Regions from separate parts of the Homo sapiens genome. Here region 2 is linked to region 1. The links come from fine-mapping of genetic effects on gene expression. Tissue or cell type: whole blood. Region 1 holds a variant in brackets; the other region holds the start of a gene. All regions are shown on one strand. Distances are between the middles of the regions.

Region 1 (2,685 bases):
CTCTCTGTCTCTCTCTCGTGTCTCTCACACCTGACAGATGGGTGCTCATGGTGCTGTACCTGGGCTGCCCTCCTAGGAACCTGGGACCAGCTGACATAACCCCCTCTCAGAACATGGAGCTGAATAGGAGAATTCACAGCCAGCTGCCTTGGACTAACCTACATCAAACCTGGGCAGATTATCCAATTGGATTATTGGTTCAAGAAGGCTAGACAGAGAGATGAGGATCTAGGAGGGAGATAATAGGTTGAATAAACCCGGGAGATTAGGTGAATGCTTGATCATTTGAAGCAAATGGCAGGGGTCAGATCTAGAAATTACTGAAGCCTTGTTGTGATGCACGTTATATTACAAATACAGGCAAGACTTGATTTTCCTACCCTCAGAAAAGGTCAGATAATGAGATAACTGCAGTCTGGGGTGACATGTTAGAATAAAGGTGTGCACAAGCTATTGTGAAGGAAATTAAATTACCTAAGGAAGATGGGAGCAGGAGGAAGGTCAGGGGCTGTTTAATAAGAAAGGATACATGGGAGCTGAGTCCTGATGGATGAATAATCTTTTCAATCAGCAGGAAAGAAGGGAAAACATTCCAGAGAGGAGCAACCCAGTGCAAAATCACCAAGTTTTCATATAGCAAATGGAGATGACAAGGATTTGGGGGTGGCTGTAAATAAGGTGACAATGAAGGAGATCCAAGAACTGATACTGGCAAGGTGGGAAGGACCCAGTACATAAAGGGACATCTGTTTTATATTCAAAAGTTAGGATTTTATCTGTGTGTAGTGGGAATCATTAAAGATCTAAAGGTAGGGAAGAGAGATAAATTGTTGCTTAGAAAGCCCACATTGACACCCATGTGGAGGATGCCACAGAAGGACCTGACATTAGAGAAGGGAGGTTAGTTTATAGGCATTTGCAATGCTGTCAAGAGATGAAAAAGATCTGGACCAAGATAGTGGCAATAGTAGGTAAGAGACACATTTGAGAAATATTTTGGAGATAGAATTTTGAAAACAGGTCAAGGTTGAGTCCCAGATTTTGGATGGGTGAAGGGAACACAGGAAGAGAAGTGGTTTGAAGTGTGGTCAGGAGGGATGAACCAAATGAATTGGTTTTAGAGTTTTTGAATTTTCAGAGCTCTAAGGAGTTCTGGAGGATATTTCCAAGAGCAGAATGGACCTCAGGAGAGGGGTGATCCTGTAGATAAATAGGAGCATCAACTCACGGTAAGTAGTTGAAACCATAGCCTGGATGAGATAATGGAAGAGATGGTGATAGTGAAAAAAAATAAAGGCCAAGGACAAAGCCATGGAGAACACTATTATTAAAGAGGAGAATGGAGAGGATGCTGTTATGAAAGTCAATCGCGGTGGAAGTTTTAAAACAGTGACATTTAACACTGTCAAAAGAATCTGAGATTAATTGAAAGGTTGAAAAGCATTTGAGAATTTGTTAGATTTGACAGCAGTGGTCTTAGCATTTCAGTGGAGGGTCAGTTTTGGGTTGGGGAGTAAATGAAAGGT[C/A]AAGAAGTCAAGATTGTGACTACTCAATTTTTCTAGAGGCTTGACTATGAAGAGAAAACATGATTTATAATAGCTGGATGAGATAGGCAGGTCACGTATTATCTTCATTTAACAGATGATAAAACTGAAGCTCCGAGAGGTTGTAATTTTCCCAAGGTCGACCACTGGTCAGTAACAGAACAAAAACTAAGTCTCTGGTCTTCAGATTCCCAATTCAGTTCTCTTCTACTTGTCCACTGAATATTTGACAGATCCCCTAGTGCAGGGTATAGGATCACAATCAGACAGTATACATGTGACTATGGTATATTTCACCCAATGGTTAAAGTATTAAAGTGGGGGTAGGGGAGGGGAAGAATTGTTTTTCCTCTTGGTCTGAACTTGTGAAATGCACACAGGAAAAGTTCATTTTAAGCCTCATTTGGCATGTTTTCTTGGCTGGGTGTGAATATTCCCAGCAGCCAAGTCCTGTTTTCTTCCTTTGCTTTATCCCTGACAGCCTTGTGCTCCTACTGTGATTTCAATTCATGACCCGAACAAGAATGATGAAAAGTAAATTGCATTCTCATGTATATTGCTATTAGAGGCTAATTACGTAGCTGTCTGAAATCCTTTGTCACTTGGACAATATGCATTGACGGAACCTTATTTCCTTGATTTAAAAAAATGCATTTTATTTGGTGTTTTCTTTAGAGATTAAAGCAACTGTTCTTGCAATGATGCACTGGCTGTTGGAGTCAGAACAGCCATCCGCACTAATGAGGATTACATAAACGTCCCTTGCTCTCATGTAAAGATAAACCTCACATCCAGGCGTGAGGAAACTAGGTCTTGTTCCTAACTCAGATACTACAGACTTAGGTCAACAATGCTGGCCTTCTTCACCAAAGACATAGAATCTTTGAATTAGATGCAGTGCTTTGCAGTGCTTGGAGACAAAGTTCACCAGAAAGATGGTATTGATCTTAGAAAAGATTAAGCTAGGCTGGACGTGATGGCTTATGCCTGTAATGCCAGCACTTTGGGAGGCCAAGGCGGGTGGATCACCTGAGGTCAGGAGTTTGAGACCAGCCTGACCAACATGGTGAAACCCCATCTCTACTAAAAATACAAAATTAGCTGGGTGTGGTGGTGCGTGCCTGTAATCCCAGCTACTTGA
Region 2 (2,685 bases), 190 kb before region 1:
CACACCTTCACTAGACAGCAAATAGCCCAACACCTTGATTTTATCCAGCCTCCAGAACTGTAAGACATACTTGTTTGTTATTTATAAGCCATCCATTCTATAATATTTTGTTATAGCAGCCTGAACTGATTAAAACACACACGTTTCTAATATAATCACAGTTTATTTTTATTGAATTGATGCAAAACAGTGAAATGGATGTTTTTCTGAATTCCAAGAGAATCTGAAAAGACGTTGATGCTAGTTATGACAAATATCAGTCAATGTAGTCAGTTGATTAAATATTACAAGGTCGATTAGTAAATTACATTTTAAAATAAAATGAATACTTTCTATTGCATATCAAACAAGTAGGCATTGTGTGTTCAAGATTCAGACTCATAGAATGGTAGTGAATGTAAAAACTCTTGGAAAGCTTCTTGCAAACACACATTAAATTTTATGAAACCTGAAGAGAAAGAGTATTTACCTCAACCTGGCTTATGTTACTTATTTTTAGCGTCTTTAAGGTATCGTTTATAATTAATTCCCCAGCCTTCTTCTTCTTGTAAATGTAAGCTTAGTGTCTTATGTTCTCAAAGCACTTCATCACCTTAGAATGTCTTATTCTTCTGAACTTAAAAGTTTTATGTTTGGGCGATACATGCGTAAAACAAAACAAAGAAATCTCCGCAGAAATAAATAAGTAACTGTCCATTGTAATGAAAAATGCTTGGATGGATAAGTATGAGTAAATAATATGGGGTCAGAGGAAAAAATATAATGTAAACTTCTAACAAGTTAAGCACGGGTAAATTGTGAAGTGCAATGCAAAATTCACATGAGTGTTTCATATATTAAGTAAAATCCACCAAAACAAAACACTGAATCTTCAAGGCAATTCTGTCCTTCCTGCCAGCTGCCACTACCTTTCTGGCAGCCTCCCTTTATCCCATTCCTCCAGCACAGGGAAATGATGCTCTGGCGACAAAGGGTACTTCCGCAGAAAACTTTTGAGAGGTACCAACTTAACTTCCAAGAGCTTGTAACTTACTCCGGTGATTTTAAGACGAAATTGGTGAGAAAGCTGTTAATATAGTAAAAAGTGCATAATAAATATATACGGGTATTAATCCTGCTCACAATCGCACCCAACACCTGAAAGAATTAAACCCTCCAACACCCTTCGGGTCTTTAAAATCTGGGCTGCGGTAATCCGAGCCCTAAGCGACCTCAGATGTGCGCATGCCCTGTTGGTGGAGCCGTGCTCCTCCTTCCTCGGGTCCGGAAGTCCCGGTTTGTTTGTTAAATTACGACCGTCGTAAACTAGAATTTTCTTGCGGCTTCTTAGCTTTACGATGGCAACAAGTATGGCGGCTGCTAGTGGTAGATTTGAAAGTGCGAAGAGTATCGAAGAGCGGAAAGAACAGACCCGGAATGCCAGGGCCGAGGTGTTGCGCCAGGTACCTCTGTTTTGGGGCTTTTGTAGTTATTTATTGTTGTGGGAGTTGAGGGTTCCCGTAAGCTAGCCCACTCACCCCTTCCCTTACCTCGTCAGTACTGAATCTCACCTTAATTTGGGTGAGTTCTCCCTTTGCAATGCCGGTAAACCCTTTTGTAGCTACCGATTTTTTAGATGTTCTGGCAGGTGCCAGTTGCTAATTCTCTTTTCAGGCAGATCTGTCGCTTTTTCTCCAAGTTTCTTTACCTTTTAAGTTACCCATTCTTTACATTTCTATCACTCGGACTGCACACTTTGTAGGTCCCCTGCGGCTTGTAAGGACTCTGCCAGCATGTCTCGCAGCCTCAGTCATTGCTACTGCTGTATCTGAAATGAGATTTTCCTTTTTCGGAAACACATTCAAGTCACACTTGAATAGACTCAGTTTGACATTTCCTCCTCCTGTCTCTATTGGTATCAATTCCAGACTTACTGTAAGCTCTTACCAATCCAAACAAAAGTTAACACCAATCTCAGTATATTTAGCCTGTCACAAAAGATCGCGAAACATTGTATTTCTCACTAAACTTCAGATACATAGAGGTAACATACAAAGAATGGAGAAAGTAAGCTTCTGAATTATCTGACAATCTATTCAATATGTAAGAAGTGTGGCAATGAAAGAGAAAAGTTGCAGTTGGAGAGCAACAGAGAATTCAGTGAGGGTTTTTGTTTTTATTTAAGTTGGAAGAGTTTTAAACAAGTTTAAATGCAAATGAGAAGGAGCCAGCAGAGAAGAGGGAGAGGAGACTCTAAAGGGAAAATGACATAGTTTCAAAATTTGGCAAATAATTTGAGGGTGAAGCAGCCCCATTCTCCTTTAATCTCCAATTTTCTCACCCTGTTCTTTGGAGTCCATCATAAGCCCTGCTCTTTTCTCTGATATCGATTTTTCTGTTTGGTATATAACCATTGTATTCATCTTCTTGCCTACACCAAGAATTATTATATGCACCCAGGGAAAAGCTAGCTGCAGAATGTTGGACTACCTCTCCATGATTTTCCCTTTTCTGGAATATTAACTCTTCTAGTTCTTGTTGCTTCAGCAGTTCTCTGATATAAACCTTTAATAAATTATTTTTATATTTGATTAAAAAAAAAAAGAAAATGACTACAGCCAGGTTTTAAAGGGGAAGAGTGGGCGATTAGTCTTGGGTAGGTGAAATGTTGGTATTGTTTCGTAATTTCAACATATGTAATGTGTG

What was found. PIP is the estimated chance that this variant, and not a neighbour inherited with it, causes the effect.
Region 2: it holds the start of CWF19L2, and the variant in region 1 is fine-mapped to the expression of CWF19L2 in whole blood (INTERVAL, PIP above 0.99). The same link has a PIP of 0.9 or more in NK cells, lymphoblastoid cells, monocytes, monocytes after LPS, monocytes after interferon gamma and skeletal muscle.

Annotation. Positions count from the first base shown.
Region 1 is chr11:107,268,508-107,271,192 of GRCh38, reverse strand. The region is part of intron 1 of LOC105369477 (a long non-coding RNA gene); the gene reads left to right. Among named protein-coding and RNA genes, the nearest start is that of CWF19L2, 190 kb to the left of the region's middle. The variant C/A (reference allele first, on the strand shown) is at 1,527.
Region 2 is chr11:107,456,469-107,459,153 of GRCh38, reverse strand. It overlaps CWF19L2 (CWF19 like cell cycle control factor 2), which reads left to right and starts at 1,329. Exons shown (of 18, transcript NM_152434.3): 1 at 1,329-1,442. The coding sequence starts at 1,338. RefSeq lists an enhancer at 1,045-1,550.